Linked DNA regions of Homo sapiens. The protein of the gene in region 2 purifies or fractionates together with the protein of the main gene of each other region. This does not show direct contact. Each region holds a gene or a part of one and is shown on either strand. Other genes may lie near its edges.

Evidence for each region.
Region 1: the proteins of ODAPH (region 2) and HAPLN3 purify together in Homo sapiens (affinity purification with mass spectrometry; 2 studies listed by BioGRID and IntAct, with this or other methods). This does not show direct contact.
Region 3: the proteins of ODAPH (region 2) and MANBA purify together in Homo sapiens (affinity purification with mass spectrometry; 2 studies listed by BioGRID and IntAct, with this or other methods). This does not show direct contact.
Region 4: the proteins of ODAPH (region 2) and ANKRD50 purify together in Homo sapiens (affinity purification with mass spectrometry; 2 studies listed by BioGRID and IntAct, with this or other methods). This does not show direct contact.

What each region holds. Positions count from the first base shown.
Region 1 is NC_000015.10:88,892,380-88,897,472, forward strand, and holds the start of HAPLN3 (hyaluronan and proteoglycan link protein 3 isoform 2 precursor), read right to left. Parts: upstream 3,166-5,093; 5' UTR 3,080-3,165; intron 734-3,079; coding exon of another isoform or gene 595-733; intron 1-594. UniProt on the Homo sapiens protein: May function in hyaluronic acid binding.
Region 2 is NC_000004.12:75,554,316-75,559,212, reverse strand, and holds the start of ODAPH (odontogenesis associated phosphoprotein isoform 2 precursor), read right to left. Parts: upstream 3,148-4,897; 5' UTR 3,131-3,147; coding exon 3,064-3,130; intron 2,673-3,063; coding exon of another isoform or gene 2,629-2,672; intron 1-2,628. UniProt on the Homo sapiens protein: May promote nucleation of hydroxyapatite.
Region 3 is NC_000004.12:102,631,604-102,636,007, forward strand, and holds part of MANBA (beta-mannosidase precursor), read right to left. Parts: coding exon 4,262-4,404; intron 3,443-4,261; coding exon 3,185-3,442; intron 679-3,184; coding exon 454-678; 3' UTR 1-453.
Region 4 is NC_000004.12:124,670,868-124,675,271, forward strand, and holds part of ANKRD50 (ankyrin repeat domain-containing protein 50), read right to left. Parts: intron 1,668-4,404; coding exon 1-1,667.

The DNA of each region.
Region 1 (5,093 bases), on a different chromosome or scaffold from region 2:
CTGGGAGGCAGAGGTTGCAGTGAGCCGAGATCACACCTTTGCACTCCAGCCTGGGCGACAGAGTGAAACTGCATCTCAAAAAAAAAAGAAAAGAAAAACAAAAGGAATTATAAGAAAAGATCAGCCCTGTGCCCAAGAACAAAAGGCCAGGAGGAAGCTGGCCATTTTCCAGGCCTCTCTGAGAGAGGAGCAGCACACAGGCCCAAGGTTTCAAGTTAAACTCATTGAGGTTGGGTCTTGGCTCTGCCACCTGCTAGCTGGGTGACCCTGGGAAAGTCATTTGACCTCTCTGAACAGAAAATTTCCTCTCTCCAGAGAAGACTAAAGGGGAACTCGGGGGCTGAGGACAAGCACAGCCTTGAATGCTAAGGTCAGTGCACAGGACAGAGTCCTGTGTGGGAGTCAGGAGTGGCAATTGCCACTTGGTTGCTGCCTTGCCTCAGGTCCATCTCTGACCATCCCTGACCACTACCACTGAGGGGAGGGATGGGTAGCCTCTGCTCCCCTACCATGGCTATCCAGCCACCAACTCCTCAGGACCACCACAGAGGTGCCACCAGCTGGAAGGCCCAAGACCAAGTCCAGCCCAGTCACCTTGGCAGTGGATAGTTCCCCAAATCTTCTGGAGTCCTGTCTGGGCACTCAGACCTGGGCTCGGTATTGGAGCTGGACACACTGCATCCTGCTGAGTGACTTCGGGCAAGTTCACCTCTCTGTGCCTCCATTTCCTCATCTGTAAAAAAAAGGAACTTAAGGCCGGGTGCAGTGGCTCACACCTGTAATCCTACAGCATTTGGGGAAGCTGAGGGGGTGGATCACCTGAGGTCAGGAGTTCGAGACTGGCCTGGCCAACACAGTGAAACCCCCATCTCTAATGAAAATACAAAATTTAGCTGGGTGTGGTGGCAGATGCCTGTAATCCCAGCTACTGGGGTGGCTAAGGCAGGAGAATTGTTTGAACCCAGGAGGCGGAAGTTGCAGTGAGCCAAGACCACACCACTGCACTCCAGACTGGCCGACAGAGCAAGACTCCAGCTCAAAAAAAAAAAATGGGCTGTGGTGACAATTATAGAAGATGTATGATGTCTGGTCCCTGGCATGCAGCAGGTGCTCAACAAATGAACATGGCAAAGATTTCAGGCTCTAGAAGCAGATTGGCTGCCTGCATTCAGTTCTGGCTCCACCCACTTACTAACCCTCTGTCATTGGACAAGTCGCTGCACCTCTCTGAGCCTCAGTTTCTTCATCTTTAAAATGGGGGTCACAAGCCAGGCACAGTGCCTCATGCCTGTTATCCCTGCACTTTGGGAGGCTGAGGTGGGCAGATCACCTGAGGTCAAGAGTTCAAGACTAGCCTGGCCAACACGGTGAAACCCCATCTCTACTAAAAATACAAAAATTAGCCGAGTGTGGTGATGAGCGCTTGTAGTCCCAGCTACTCGGGAGGCTGAAGCAGAAGAATCGCTTGAACCCAGGAGGCGGAGGTTGCAGTGAGCCGAGATTGAGCCATTGCACTCCAGTCTGGGCAAGAAGAGTGAGACTCCATCTCAAAAAAAAAAAAAAAGTTGGGGTGGGGGGGGCGGTCACGACAATACCAAACAGAAAACACTCTCGTGAAGATTAAGGGAGAGAATAGCTGCAGAGCACTGAAAATACTGCTTGATGCTTGATAAGGAGCAAGCACTGGGAAAATATGACCTGTTACTACTCTGGTGAGCAGTTCACACAGTGAAGTCTTACACCATCTCAGTGGCTCTTTCTCCTCTCTCACTGCCTACGAGACAAAGTGGTCACCACTGCCTCCTCTTCACAGTTGAGGAAACTGAGGCCAAGAGAGTGGAGGTCAGTGAACTACCCAAGGCGTTATCTTTGTCAAATATCTCGAACTTAGAGAAAGTTCAGGTTTCCTGATGACCAGCCCTTTGCTTTTCCCAGGCGCCCCAGCCTAGGGACCCCTCCACCCAAGAACAATAAGCCTGGGCTTGGAGGGAGGGTAGGTGCCACCTCCCTGCCAGGTGCATGTCCGCACTGGGCCTTCCGTGAGTACAAGTCCCCCAGGTACCAGCAGGAGGCAGCATCGCCCGCGAGGTCTGCACGAGCGCTGCTCCCAGCGAGAAATTTGACATCCCTGTCCCTGTTTGCACAAGGCTTGATCTCCGCCTTTGAAACCTGCAGCCCCCAGGAGAATGAAAACCGGAGGTGTTTCCCAATCCGCTGGCCCGGGCGGCGTCGAGGGAGAGAAGCCAGGGCCCCTCTCAATCGCTGCCCCCTACTCCAGGGAGCACAGGCACTCCCGCGGGTCAGCGCTGGACACCAAGGTCCCAACAGGTTTACAGGCTGCCTGTGGCCTGTGGCTGCCAACGAGCTGGTGGCAGGACTGGGTCCAAGTGCCGTGCTGTTTCCATACTGGCTGCGCACAAGCCTACGTTTCTCCCTGAGGGTCGCCATCTCCCACCCAGGGCTCTGCCCTCCACCCTCCCTACCCTTCTGGCCTCGCTGTCCCTGGGGCAAGAACCCCGGTGAGCGAGGTCTGGAACCCATAGGCATCAGTTGCCTTTGCCCCAGGCGCCCAGAGCCGGCCAGCTGCGGTCCAGAGGCGCAGGTCCGCCAGCCGCCTCGCAGGTTGCCCTCAGCCCCTCCCAGGACTCCCGGGGCCCCCGGAGCATCCAACAGATACCCAGGGGCAGGGCCTGGGGCGCCGCGGACGGCACTGGAGGCAGCCGACCCTGGACAGACGACAGGGGAGAGAGCCAAGCGGACCCTGGCAGGAAGGGGGCTGGAGGCGGACGGTGGTCTCGGAGGCCACGGGGTCCGCTCGGGCTCTGCTCCCTCACGGTGGGCACGAGGGTCCGGCGCCCGCATCCCCGCGCCGCTCCCTCCCCACTTGTGCCCCGGGCGCCCCTCGCCCGCGATCACAGCCCATCTCAGCCCGGGCCTCCGCAGTGCCCGGCCCACGCCTCCTGCCCCTTCCCCGGACCCTGCCCGGGAGGTGTGGGGACCCGCAGGGCACCCAAAGCGGTAAGGGAGGAACCCGGCCCGCACACAGCCCCAGAAGCCCAGCGACCCCTAAGCCACGTACCGTCCCCAGGCAGCTCCTCGACGGCTAGAGCTCTCGGGGGCCGCGAGCTGTCCCGGTCCAAGGCAGCAGTCTGATTTCGGGGAAATTAAAAGGGCAGAAAGGAAGCGGCAGCAGAAAAACCCCCGCGCTCCCGCCAGACCAGCCCCTTAAAGGAACACGCGCACCTTTCCCTCCCAAGGGCTGGGCTCGAAGGGAGGAGCTGCTGCAGGCTTGAGCGGTCTCCAGACTCGCTGGGAACCACCGCAAAGAGGGTGTGCAAGAGTTGAGGCCCTCACGTCTTGGGAAAGGAGAGTAGGGGTGGAATAGGAGAGTTTGGGGAGGGGGGATCCCCTTAGAAAGCCTGGTATACCAAAAACAGTGGGAGTAAGCAGGGGAAGCCCCTGTCCAGCATTCTGCTAGGGGCTAAGGCTGCTCCCCACCTTTGATTGTGGAAGGGGTGAGACTTCTGTATTACTTTCTTTTCCAAATAGAAAGCAAGGGGGTGAGGCCAGGTGCAGTGAGTGGCTCATGCTTGTAACCCCAGCACTTTGGGAGGTGGAGGCCGGTGGATCACCTGAGGTCAGGAGTTCAAGACCAGCCTGGGCAACATGGTGAAACCCTGTCCCTACTAAAAATACAAAATTAGCTGGGCGTGGTGGAGCATGCCTGTAATCCCAGCTACTTGGGAGGCTGAGGCAGGAGAATTGCTTGAACCCAGGAGGCGGAGGTTGCAGTGAGCTGAGATCATGCCATTGTGCTCCAGCCTGGGCAACAAGAGCAAAACTCCGTCTCAAAAAAAAAAAAAAAAAAAAAGCAAGGGGTTGCTGATGTCCTCATGCCCCTGAGTTTGGCCATCATGAAACACTGGCCAGATTCCCAACTCACTGTCAGGCACATAGCAGGTGCTATCCCCAGCACATGGGGCTTGAATGAGTGGCCCTGGCTGGGAGGGGAGACACAGGGTGGGATACCTCTGCAGCCTGCAGGGGCAATCAGGCTTCTGAGTGGTCCTCCAACAGGGGTGGGCCTCCCTTCGGAATCCTGCTAATCAGCACAGCCATCCAGGCAGCCGCTCAGGATGCCTCTGTTTGGACAGGGTGTTTTCTTTCCTGTCCAGACCAATGGGGGCCCTGGCCTGGACAGCCCGATGTTTCCTCAGCAGAAAAGACTAAGGAGGTCCTTCAGCTTTGGCTGGGGGAAGGGTCGAAGGGTCACAGGGTCACAGAGCTCAGAGCCTCTTCCTAAACACAGCTCAAGTTGGCCCATGAGTGTGTGTGTGTGTGTGCATGTGTGTGTGTTACACACAGCCAGGGGCACATTGGAGCACAAAGAACTGTGATCAACAGGTAAACTACACCTAAAAGGAACGCCAGGCTTGATGGGCAAAGGGGAGCCAAGGTAGGTCCCTCTGCAGGTTCCCGACAGGGGAGAGGATGGACAGTAGGGAGAGCACATTTTGCTACAGTTAAGTCGAGTTGAACATGCCAGCCAGGGGTAGGGGTAGCCAGCAGGTGGAATCTGAACGCTCACCCTCTGCCTTGCAGTGGGGCAGAAAAAAGTCAATGTGTAGGGGTGATGGTAAAAGCTGGGCAAATGGAAGACACTGCTGAGGGAGAGAAGCCAAGGAAGGAAGGAGGGGGTCAGGAGTGAGGGGACTCCACTCCAGGGTCCCAGGAGGGGGACTTTTAGAAGGCTGTGGCCAACCCATCCCAGAGCAGAGATGCTTCTCCCACTGTCTGCTTATCCCCAGGGTATGCTGGAACAGGGGTTCAGGGCAGGAAACTCCCCCGGGAGGGAGACCTGAGGCTTGGAAGCACGCAGAAAGGCTTGGCTCTAAACCCAATCCACACCGCTCCGCAGAAGAGAGCTCTGAAACGGGAGGCAGTAGGCCAAGGGACACCCAGGGGAAGGGAGTCCCCCATCCTCAGTTCCTACGAAGACCACGGCCTGGGCCTTTTATTCAGACCCTGCTAGGCCCAGGAGCCCAGCAACCGCAGGTCTCAGAAAGGAACCACTTCCAGACACATTTCCCTGA
Region 2 (4,897 bases):
TAGGACCTCGCCAATGACAGGGACTGTTGACTCTTGGTCACTGCCGGTGTCTCCAGCACCTAGAATAGTCCCTGGCTTATAGTGGTGCTCAGTAAATACTTGATGAGTTAAATGGTCAGGCCGACCTTGAATGTTCCTCTCTGTATATTTTGTGGAGTTCAGTGAGTATTTAATTTCAGTCGCAGAAAATCTGCAATAATAAATTATATTAAAAATTGGCTGGGCGTGGTGGCTTACACTTATAATCCCAGCACTTTGGGAGGCTGAGCCAGGCAGATTACTTAAGCTCAGGAGTTCAAGACCAGCCTGGCCAACATGGTGAAACCTCGTCTCTACTAAAAACACAAAAATTAGCCGGGCATGGTGGCAGACACTTGTAATCCCAGCTACTCTGGAGGCTGAGGCAGGAGAATCATCTGAACCCAGGAGGCGGAGGTTGCAGTGAGCTGAGATAGTGCCACTGCACACTCCAGCCTGGGCGACAGAGGGAGACCCTGTCTCAAACAAACATACAAACAAACAAACAAAAAAATTAGAGTATAATAGAAAAAACAAGGCAAAATATTGCTTGGAATTTGAATATCAGTTTTAAGGTGGTTTATTATAGTCTAGACATGAAATTCACAGCATACCAACAACTACTTTAAAAACAAGTACTTTTTTAAAAAAAGGTAATGATGAAAGACCTTTTTTTTTTTTTATAATTACCTATACTCTGTGGTTATTTGGGCAGACAAAGCTGGCTTGCAGTGAACTATACTGATTTTAAGAGAAGTCAGCTTTCTACTTAAAGTTTAAGTGTGCAGTTCTTCCCTTACATGGTGCATGGAGTCTTAGAAACTAATTCTCATGTGCTTTCAGACTTGAGCCAGAAAGAATAAGTTCTATGATTGATTTACTCACAATAACTGCAAAACTCAATTTATTTTGTAGACTCAAAGAATGACTATCTTGGTCAAATCTCTAATTTCACAGATAAAATATCAGAGCCCAGAAAGTATCAGACAGGCCCCTTTCAATTCTATGCTGTGAGTCAAGTTGTTTCAACAGGTACAGGTTACTACATTAGGGGCTCTGGCAAACGCAGAGATGATTAAGATTAAGAGCCTGAGCTCAAGGAGTGGGCAGATGCTATGAAGCCAGGGATCTGCAGCAGAGAGCAGATGCCATACGTGCCGTAGGTGATGCACAAATAGCTGTAAGAATTCAAAGGTGTCAGAAAGAGAAACTGCAATTTTAAAATTATTATGTCTTAACAAAGACTTTGTCAAGGCAAAATCATAGTGGCATTTAAATGTTGTGCCTTAAAGCGGAACTGCAACAAACAGAGGTGAAAGCAAGTGGAGGGAGCAGCTGTGGTTGCTGCCGTGCATCAGTGAGAAGAGGATGAGTATGGAGATCCACACATGACCTTGTCGGGCAGACCCAGGGTGTGTGTGAACGAGCGATGAACTGGAAGCAGGGGCTGCTGGGATAGAATGAAGCTACATTTGAAGGACTTCGAGGGATTGTAGGGAAAAGTGAGCCAAATTCGGAAATCAAATCTGGTGTTTCAATGGGTGTTTTGTTTTTTGAGACAGAGTTTCACTCTTGTTCCCCAGGCTGGAGTGCAATGGCACGATCTTGGCTCATGGCAACCTCCACCTCCTGGGTTCAAGCGATTCTCCTGCCTCAGCCTCCCGAGTAGCTGGGATTACAGGCATGCACCACCACACCTGGCTAATTTTGTATTTTTTGTAGAGATGGGGTTTCTCCATGTTGGTCAGGCTGGTTTTGAACTCCCGACCTCAGGTGATCTGCCCACCTCGGCCTCCCAAAATGCTGGGATTACAGGTGTGAGCCACTGTACCCAGCCTCAGTGGGTGTTTTTAAGATGTGAATAAAATAAATCTCTAATCTCATTATAACTTGTTTAGCTATGTGTTTACAAAGCCTCCTGAAGAGCGGTTCACTTTTTGCAGAGAAAGTGGCAGGTGGCTAGTTTTGTTTTATGATGCTTCTTTTAGATGTCACTTTTAGTAGGTGAGGCTTGGGGGCCTTGCCTTGGGATATGGGGGCAGGTTTTGTTCATAATCTATGCCCTGTCCCCTGATTGCCAGAGTGTGTGCAGAGGTTGGATCAGGGGGTTTCTGAGTGTTCCACAACCAGCTCTTATGTCTCTCCCCTCCTCCTGTCTATTGTGAGCTCTGAGGGATGGGAACGGGGAATCTGTCTGGGGATGAGCAGGGTTTGGCTGAGCCCCTGCAAAGCCCCCTACCCAAGACATGTGAAAGGGGTGAAGTGCTCTGTTTGACTCCTAGGTCCATCTTCCGTAAACAGCATCTAGTTTTGGAATTAAAATAAACTGAAGAAAAGGTTAGATCTAGGCTCCCCAAGATTTCCTCCCCTTGTATTTCCCTCTTTTCATCCCTTCCCCAGCCTTTTCTTTCCTTTTCCTAGGGGTTTGCAAACCAATTGTAAGGCTCAGGACACATTTTGTAGTGGGAACAAAGAAAGAGAATAGGAACAGTTGAGAAATGGAATCTAATAAAATCCTAAAGAAAGAAACCTGTGCCCACCTCTGTGGCACCAAAATGCAGCTCAATAGATGTGATTAATTAAAGCAATGAACAAAGACTAAATACCCACCATGTGCAAATTAATATGCTGCTGGAGATAGAAAGTGGACAGTGCTGTAATTCAAAGTGGAATTGTTAGCTTTGTAACCATAATAACTAGTATTTGTACAGTGTTTTTAGCTTGAAGAGTTTTTCACAGATGATAGCTCATTTGGTCCTTGCAAACCCCATAACGATGGATATTGTTAATGTTGTCACTTCACATATGAGGAATCTGATACTCAGAGATTTTAAGTGTGTCTAAAGTCACAGAGCTATTGCTGAGACGAGGACCAAGGTCTTCAGGTGACAAAATCCAACTTCCTTCTCTTTAACCACACAGGCTGATGGAAGCTGAGGTAAATATTTCCAATTTATGGGAACGTATAATCATGGAGCCAGTTTTGTCTTTTCCTACAACTTATTAATTAGTGGACCCACAGTAGAATAAAAGCAAAACCCTTACCTTCTGCCACAGTTACCACCAACCAGCATACCAGTAACCAGTAGGAGAAGCAGTGTCTGCGAGCCATGGCTTCTACTGAGCAGTCACTGCGTTGAACCTGATGTTGCTTTAAAGGGGAGCTGGTGAGTCACCAGCAGCCTGATTCAGGTAATTTGCATTTGCACAGTGGACCACAGAGATCAGGGCTTGCGGTGTGAGGGTAAGAAATCAGCAAGGAAATACCAGACAGTATTTGTCAACCAGAAGCTTCTTGGAATGACAGCCAGATATCAATCATCTCCCCCCAGAGGGGGATTTTGGACAACCGCACCTTCACCATCCTTCTAATCTCTCAAATCTTCTCCCATGTTAGTGCCTTTTAGTTGTGTATATCAGTCTTCCTCTGCAAGAGAAATAAGCTGTCCAGAAATATGCAACAGTGCTTCTCTCTGTGCAGCTTACCTACTTAAAAAGCGAAACAAGAGGGAGAGGGCATTACCCGGAGGCTTCCTGACCCCGGTGGTTTGCAGTGGAGAGTTGGGGATCATTCTTAGGCCCCCAACCAGGGTTTATGCTGCTTCTCTGCTCTGCTTTTGTCCAGGAGGTGAGGGCAGCAGAATCAGAAAGTGATCTTCCCTAGTGGTCATGATGGTCACTGTCTAAACAAACATAAACATTGGGAGAGTAACTTAGTGAGTCGTCCTTTCACGGCTCCTCCTGATTCACCATATTGCATATAAAATGGACATGACATGTCTATGTCCAGTTGGTTTCCTGAGAGAAAGACTTCATCAGCTGCTGGATATATGAGAGGGGATTGTCACAGGTGATTAAGAACATGGACCTTGGAGTCAGGTAAAATTCCAGTCTTTGTTCCTTTTCTTACTAGCTGAGTGACTGTGGTGAGTCCCTGAGACTTGCTGAAGCCTCAGGGGCCTCACCTGTAAAATGGGACTTGTGGTACTACCCTCAGAGGAATTTGTGAATTAAGGAGATGCTTTTAAAAAAAATTTTTTTTAAATTTCAATCTTTTGGGGTACGAGTGGTTTTGGGTTACATGGATGGACTCTATGGTGGCGAACTCTGAGATTTTAGTGCACTCGTCACCCGAGCAGTGTACACTGCACCCAATATGTAGTCTTTTATCCCTCACCTCCTTCCCAACCTCCCCCACCCCTAGCCTCTAAAGTCCATTATATCATTCTGTATGTCTTTGTGTCCTCATAGCTCAGCTCCCACGTATAAGTGAGAACATACGATATTTGGTTTTCCATTCCTGAGTTACTTAACTTGGAATAATGGCCTCCAGCTCCATCCAAGTTGCTGCAAAAGACATTATTTCATTTTTTTATGGCTGAGTAGTATTCCATGGTGTATTTCTACCACATTTTCTTTATCCACTCGTTGGTCGATGGCCACTTAGTTGGTTTCATATCAAGGAGATAATTGACATACAGCTCCAACCACAGTGCCTGGCCTGTGAAAGGGAGTGTTTGTGATTGTCATTAAATTATAATAATCCCAACTGATAATTTATTCTCTTAGGAGGCTGTACTTGCCAAATCAGTTAATCACTGGAAAGACCTCCACTTTAAGCAGAACATTTTCCTGGGTATCATGGAAAAAAAAAAAAAAAAAAAAAAAGAACAAACTAAACATGGTCCCTGTCTTTGAAGGACTGACAATCTAACAAGAGAGGCTGTGCAAACTGAAAGTCTAAATGAATAAGGATGCAAACACTCACAGATAGAAAATGGAAAGTTCCTCAGGCTTGATGTTAGTCCTAGGCAAACTTCCAGAACAGATAATCAGATGGATGATTTGTCAGCAGTTTGAAAAGGAATCAGGAAACATC
Region 3 (4,404 bases), about 27 Mb from region 2:
TTCAATCGCCATTCCCTCTGAAATAATAACAAAGCACTTTATTTGAGTATTCCGTATTCCCCAAAGCTAGCTGTGAAAGACCTACATCACCTCAAAACCTTCCATTTGGTTCCATAGATCCTGCCATGTCACATTCTTGTAACCAGCTGCAGGGCCATCTTGTTATAACTGGTTCATGTCCTGCTAAAGCTGAGAGGTGAAGGGCTAAAAACACAGTCCTGGCACAGATTCCAGGACACCCCGGCACAGGCTTGTTTGAGGACATTGCCTGGGTAAACAGCCTCCCCTGAAAGTGTTCAGTGTACAACTCTTCACAGAGCAATCGCTCAAATGCGTGGCAGCACGCAGACATGTCTCTCGGCTTCTCTCCTTGTCTCTGTTGCCTTCCTCTCCAGTCGGTGCTTTAGAAATGCTTTATTCCCATTGTCCACTGAAAATACAACCTAGATTCCTTCAGTAAATATCTGTTAAGGAGGTCACATGAAAAGATTGCTCCAACTCATTCTTGCTGGTGGGCTCCCAAGGGTAAAATAATATAGTTCGTGTCTTCTCAGTCATGAGGAAACCATTGTCACTAAATCTCCCTGGGATGCTTCCTACATCCAACCAAACAAAGGGAGCGACAGCTGAGGTCTCCAGGTCAAAAACAAATATGTCACCTTGCTGAGAGATGATGGCCTGAAAAAGAAAAAAAAAAATGAATGAAGTGAAGGATGAGGGAAGAGTTATATAGTCTGTATACAGTTCCTGTAAACATTTATGTGGGCTTAACAAGGAGTCCACTTCCCACAACTTTGGTTCTACAACTGCTAAAGTGCAGTTTCAAACACAAAACAATACATGGAAAATGACTACAGGCTATGGAACGTTACCAAATTATAATCACAAATCAAGGAAATACATCGTCTCCAATCATTAAGGAGAATATTTCACAAGAAGCTCAAAGCTTTACATCTTTTACAGTTTTTCTCAGAGTATCATCAAGAGAGCAACATTTTTACATACAGCCTGGGTGGTTTTAATGACTTTCTAAGGATATATCTGGACCTAGCTACAGAGCCCAACTGTGGAGCTTACATTCAAGTCTCCTGAAAAGATCCAGCAATCTAGAAAGTCCACTGCCAGAAATTTACAAAAGCTCTACCATTAGAGCTTATCTCTTTTACTGCATAGTTAAGTAAAGTCACATTATTAGCATTTTTTTTACATGTGTGAATTCCACAAAATAGCAGCAAAAAGAGACAGTGCAATTTAAATCGTGTTGGCTCCATTCCTCTTAAGTAGCCGAATAGCATATGCCCAGAGTGAGGATGCGCTGCTCCCCAGAGTGGGAGGGTTTGCAAACCTCTCTTTGTGTGAGCACGGAGCTGAGTGCAACCTGGTTTCTTAATCTGTGCATTTGTCATGCAACATCTCAGTCTTACATTATATGTTATGTGTGACATAAAGAATTTCAAAGGGCCATTTTCACTATATATAATTTAGCCTTACATATTTGTGTAATATGTTATCATTCAGGGTTCTGAGTTATACACAAGGAAACCTATATTGATAGAAGCAGAAAAGAAGCTTAATAAAGCGTATCAGGTTGCTCTTCAGGATCAGAGACTCAGGCTTGAATTTGGATGGCAAATTCCCAGATCGCACCGCCCAGCTGTTCCAGTGAAGGTCCTAAAGCAGCCACAGGAACAAGGTTCATGCGGCTCATGCCAGCCTGCCCAGGAAGCTGCCAGGGTAGCATCAGCTTCTGCTGCTCCAAGACCAAGGCCGAAAGAGATGCTGGTGTCATGCTTATGCTGGTTATCTTCGTTGGATTGGAAATCTCCTCTCTGTATGTCTGACTGCAGAGCCTGGGATTCAAGCTTGCACCCTGGCTTCAGGGAGACAGGGAGAACAAGTTTCTGGCATCTCCCTTGAGAAAAGAAGCCAAATACCTAGTCTATATTAGCCCCGAATTAAACATTAACTAACAGTATTATTACTATCATTTTATCTCTTTAAGAAGGACAAGTCTCACTGAAATCAAAATGAGATAGAACAAAGAAAGAGCCCTGCTTTTCTCCCACCCCAATTACCCACCTCAAGGTAATGAAGGCCTAACTCAGGAAAGAAAAAAATTTGGTTTTCAAAATCATAAGTTTAGAGACTGAAAATTCATCCAGTACATAGTGGTTTTTTTTTTCTTTTTTGGAAAAAAATATATGTAAGACTGTCATTTTCTTCTGTTCTCTATTAGTTGTTACAGATAACTTGGATTTTATTATGTGACTATAGAAAGAAGGTATGTTTTCAGTTGTTAGGCTCTTTCAAATAAAACACAAGAATTAGGTGTTTTTATATGATTATTTCTAAATTAAATGTAGAAAATCCCTTTCTATGAAGTAAAAGTGTAAAACAAATTTAAAATTTTCTAAAAACAGAGAATGTAACTTTCTAGAAAGATATTTCCTGAGTGTCCAGAAGATAAGATAATAAAATTAAAAACATATATGTGTACATATATTTCCAACTGCTATGTGTAGGGGAGAAGGAAGGAAAGGTTTTCAACCTACTAGACAAATTCCAAATTCTCCAGCTGCACAATTTTTATAACAACACATCCTGATCATCCCATTTTTATATCTTGGCAATTATAAAAAGATTTGGTGATTGAGCTACTTTGAAGCAATAAATCAAAGAGACTAGAGTGAATATTAATAGACTCTACTTAAAATTAGACTGCGTCAGCTGGGCTCCAATGCTTCCCAGCTACAGGACCTCGAGCTCATCACTTAACCTCCTAAACTGGCTTCCAAACTTACAAAATGCAGATGATAATGCCTGGAGCTGTGGTGAAAGTCAGAGACTATGAGGTGAAGCACCTAGAACACAGCCTGGAACCTAGTGGGCATGCAGGCAGTGGTGATGACTCGAGCTTCCTCTCCCATCACTGCACCTGCCCACTAAGGAGGGGTGATGGGACAAACGAGTAGTGGTCACCAGCAACTCTGACAAATCCTGGATTCGAAATAGAAATCATTTGGTGTTTGCTTTTAGTGGGAAGAGGCCAATCTTCCCCCAGGCCTCAGGTAAACTCAGCACCAAGGGGGACACATGCAAATCTCAGGATGCAAGGAGCTGGCCCAAGAGCAGGAGAACCCCACAAGGCCACAGTCCCCTGCCCTCCGCCATGACCTGTGCTTACAGTGATCTGCGCCTTGCAGAGCCCCACGGCCTCCTTCGGTGAGGACAAGAAGTGGTAGTTGGTCGGGCTCAGGAGTTCATGGTCAGCTGAAAGGTAAAAGGAAACCACACAGCTTTCCCGTGTGCAATTCCCACATCTCCTCAGCAATTCAGACACTGGCTCCTCATAAAGGCAGACAGCCTCTCCTCCTTTCATCACAAAACGTTCAGTCACACGAGAGCACACGGGCTCCAGGGAGCTCCATGTATGGACTCTCACCTGGGGAGAAATAAAACAGAATAAAAACAGGCATTCTTGGTTGCTATGTTTTTAAGGAACAATAGTAGTAATAATTGCTGAAAGTCAGGTTAGCAGAAATGGTTAAGAGACTATGAAACCTGAGTTTTAATCCCAGTCCTGCAAAATACTAGCTATGTGACTAAGTAACTTCTCAGTCTTCATTTCTTCATATGTAGAATGAAAATAACAGCAGTAATGTCACAGGCTGTTGTGAGAATTTAAAAAATAATCCACGGAAGGCACAGTACCTGGTGCGTTGTAATTTTTCTGTAAATGTGACCTATTTTCAGTGTTATTAGTGTCCTCCAAACTATAGCCACCTAAGACTTTGAGTTTCTAGCCTTTCTTTTTACTTAAATTTGTTTTTTAAAACAAATTTGCTTTCCACATGCGCATTCTGAATAGTTTTACTGATTTTCACTATAACATGCCATTTTTAACCATTTCTTTTTATAAAGTTTGGACTATTTCCAGCCTCTCACAATTATAAATAACCTTGCATTTAAGGGGCACATTATAGCATATGTGATTTGCTTTCATCTAGTTATTTTATTTCCTACTCATAGAAATCCTGTAAGAAGAGAGACTGGTATCATTTTACTGAGAAGAAATTGAATCAACAAGATGTGAAGGGTTTTGCTTATGGTCACATGATTAATGGCAGGGTTGTAGCCTGAATATATGTATTCTAACTCTAAATTAATTTCTCTTTTATTTTCCCAAAAGAATGTAACCAAACAACTAAAGAAATCATCTAAAAGTCTCCTTCGATCTTAGAAAACAATCCAAGTAACTTACACTGAGTGTCATCGAATAATCCGAGTGAAGATCTGACACACCATAGATATAGAACGTGTTTTCATTCTCAAAGCCTACTGGCAACAGTGGAGCAAAGAAATTCTGAGCAAAGTAATGAAGCATTTTCCACTTTCCTCCGTACT
Region 4 (4,404 bases), about 49 Mb from region 2:
CCAAAACAAAAGTGTATTTACAACTGATGCATGACCCATAGACGCTGCTGCTAAGAGGGGTGTACGGCCATTGTTATCTGTGTGATCTACATCTGCTCCCCCTTCTAGAAGCAAGTCAACCACATCAACATGTCCTTCATAGGCAGCTACCAGCAGTGGAGTCATGCCATCTTTATCACAATGATCTACTTCAGCACCTCGATCAATTAAAAGGCTAACAACTGATGCGTGCCCTTTACTTGCAGGCACACAAAGTGCAGCTACAGAGAGTGCAGTCCTGCCATCAACATCCTCATGATTTACTTCTGCTCCATGGTCCAGTAGGTGTTCCACAATCTCTCTATGTCCCATGTATGCTGCTGCTATCAAAGCAGTTCTACCTTCATTATCAGCTTTGTTCACTTCAGCGCCATGTTGTAGCAAATTCAGTACAATATCCTCGTGTCCTCCCCATGCTGCTGCTCTCAAAGCTGTTCGGCTATCAGCATCTGCACAATCCACTTTTACGCCAGCATAAAGTAGTGCAGAAACTACCTCAGTATGGCCACCCCAAGCAGCAGATCTTAATGCTGTCCAACCATCTTGATCAGTATGATTAATATTTGCTCCACACCCAATCAAACAATTAACCACCTTGGTATGTCCCTGTCTAGCCGCTAGAGTGAGTGGTGTATGTCCATGAGCATCTTCTATCTCTAAATCTGCTCCCCTAGAGACAAGTAAATTGACTACATCAAGACTGCCACTATATGCAGCATTAGCCAATAATGTTCTCCCATTTGAATCACACTGATTTACTGAAGCTCCATTATCTAATAATGTCCGAATGGAATCCTCTCTTTCTAAGGCTTGTCGAACTATGCATGATGTGCGATCGTCTTCACTGTTGACATGAGCCCCAGCTTTAACCAACAGCTGTAGCACTTCTTGTTCCTTGGGTATCAAAGTAGAAAGGGAATCTCTGACAGGTGTACCATTCCATATCATCCACAGAGCTAACTCCGCTGTCTCTAATTGTAAGTTTGAGTTAATTAAGTGCAATGCAAATTCTTGTGCTTCCAATGGTGTTAAATTCTTGGCTTGACAGGTATAACTCATAGCCAACATTCTGTGTCCTTCTGCTGCATTACATAAATACTTCTGAGTACAGTGTTTCACATCCAGAAGCCACTCGGCAAAACTATAATGAAACAGTATTTTTGTATTTCCTAGTCCATCAACAAGAAGTTTGGAGAGGATATCTAACTTGCGTTGAAAATCTTCCAAAGTTAACGACATGTTTTTGGTCCATACTGCGTGATATAATTCCGTTATGGTCAAAGGTCGGCAGGCTGCAAGAATCACATTCAAAATAGGCTGAACCTTTGCAAATTGTTTTCTTACAAAAAGTCTTTGGCACAGCCAGAGATATAAACCATTTAGAGTTCCTGGGATGTCACGAATTTCTCTTAACATAATAAAATTTTCTACAACTCCATCTAAAACTCGTTCTAGGTAAAGAAAGCATCCACTGCTTTTAATGTGCAGTTGATTTAACATCTCTGCAGTTTCTTTTGTGAGGTGTTGTCGCAAAGCTTCTTCTTGATCTAAACGATGAAGAATGTACTGCTGAACATCCTTGACGATATATGCCTTCCGAAGGTCATCTAAACTTATTTTTCGAAAACCTAAAGAAGAGATAAAAAAGTAGATGTAATCAGTTGAAAAGGATTATAGAAGTACCATATCTTCAAAGAGAATGTCAACATATAATAAATAAATCAATTAATAAATTAATACTAATAAGCAGATCAATTAATACCTATTAGTATGTAAATCAGTTTTCTTTTCTTTCTGCAAAAACACACTGATGGCAGAAAAATTTCATTTTCCTACCTACAAATTGAACTACTTATTCCTTTAGTAGCTTGGTGCCTCTCTCAACTCCATTGTAATAGATACTAATTAAGAAGCAGACAGTCTTACATAACCATAAAAGTACCCAGTTAACATCATCTGAACTCCCAAGTGATTGGGAAAAAAAGTTGCAGGAGACATAACAAGTAAGGTTTCTTTTTACAAAATCTCTTCCATATAAATAATTTATATATTTTCACCTATACACTTGAATATACACTAGCCTTAATTATGTGACTGAATATTTACATCCAATTAGAATATCCAGTCATTGTCTTTAAACTACATTACTGTACATTTTATCAAACTAAAATAACTAAATCTCAGACCATCAATAAATAGCTTGAACCAATTAAGATCCAACTTTTTGGCTAAATTATGGTCAAAAAACTTCAGCACTGTAAAATAAATAATAAGATTTAAACCAACCTAAAAATATACTAGCTATAGCTATTTTAAACTCATTTTAAGTTCTTTAAAGGAAGCCATAATTTCACTGTCTAAAGGCAGATGACATCATGATATACAGATATGAACTTATTAGACAATTGTGTATTCATCTTACAGAACAAAAAACTGCTAAGTGAATGAACTTACCAAGTCTCTAACATGACCAGATTTGCATTTTGAAGGAATATTCTAACATCTAAAGAAGAACTGGAGCAAGTCAAGACTAAAGGAAAAACGATTTTTAAAGAGGCTGTGATGCACTCTAGATGAAAATCACTATGAGCCTGAACAGCCATGGTGGTGGCAGCAGTTGCAGCAGCAGCAGCAGCAGCAAAAATAACGTGATGGACTTGGGAATTTTTAATAAGAGCTAGATTATACAGTGTTTGGTGAATGTGGAGAAGTAAAGAGAGAAGGACGAGTCAAAGCTGACACTAACTTGTGGCTCTGCCAACAGGACTGAAAAAGAGACCAGTGAAGGACAAATAATAGGTTTGGAGAAAAAGCTGATGAACTCAATTTTGTAATACTAAGCTTTAAGTATGTAGACAAAATGGACAGTTATTGAAAAATTAAAAACAACCTACCAAGAATAAAATATGAATAACAGTTGTACTAATATAGCCCTTTGTATATAGATTTATATAGCCCTAAATCTATATAAAAATAGAATCTAATTTTACATATATATGTATACACACACAATTGATTATTAAATCCTCAACAGAAATAATTTCAAAAGATAAATTTCAATTGTGAAAAAGTCACTGCTCACCTAAGGAGGGTTTAAAACATACCTAGAAATTTACAGCAATCTATATTTACCAATGATGTGAGATGATTTGCCTCCAAATCTTTTTCTGTGTGTCCATTTGCTTTTGACTTTATCAATTCACTTTAAAATTTAAGTTAGATAAGGGAAATACCTAGTACATTGCTAATAAAATAAGTTACTTAAGAAATAATATTATTTTACATTATATAGTGTTTTAAAGTTTCTGAAGCAATGTAATACTTTACATTACTTTAATGTAAGACTTTATATTACACTACTTGATTTACATGAAAGATAATACATTATGAATAAATATCTAAAATTTAAACCTAATTAACTAAGATGTCATGATTGGAACTTGAGATTATTAAGACAGAAACTCCACAGTAACAGGTAGGGTTCTACAGAAAGGAATAAAGGAGAGCTACATTTATTGAGAGTCAACTAAGGTAGTAGTTTAAGTATTCATTATTTATAAAACTTCCTTGTCTGTTAAGCCTGGGAGATAAATATTTCTATTTTAAAAAATGAGGAACCTAAAGCTCAGAAAGGCTAAATAAATTGCTCACAGTAACACAGCTAGAAAGTGATAAATTTTGATTGTTTTGTTTGACTTTGAAGTTTGCTCTTTTCATTAAGATAGGAACAAGAATAGAAAGCTGTGAAAGAAAACTCAAGTGTTTGACAGGGGAATGAAGAGGAGGGAGTAGGGACATAGGATTAATTCTATAAGAAAGTATAGAATTTCATAAAGAAAACTTACAGAGAATTTATAATTTAGAGAATAAATCTCCCCCCAATCTAAATACTTAATAATATGGATTTTAGATAGAAGAAATTACCATGTTCTTTACCAATGATGGTTATAATAGTTATCTGTTCATTAAAACAGAACTAAGAATATCTATTAATCAACAACTTAAATATCTTGAGTTACAGTACTGAAAATAATTACTTTTAAAAATTATAACTTCTGACTAATACACATGTAATCCTCTTATTATGAACACACACAATATATAGCTATCAAAGCACTTTTAAACATAAGATAGGGCTGAAAAATAATCAAAACTTCTAGGGGAATAAAAACATGACTTACTGAAATGATGGACCACCTACCTCCCTATTTCTTTTCTATTCTTACTTGAATAGAAGTATTTTTCTATTCTTTTCTATTCTTACTTGAACTTTTCTATTCTTACTTGAACTTTTCTATTCTTACTTGAAACATTTCTATTATTTTCTATTCTTGCTTGAATTATTTCTCAGGGTACCGCATTACG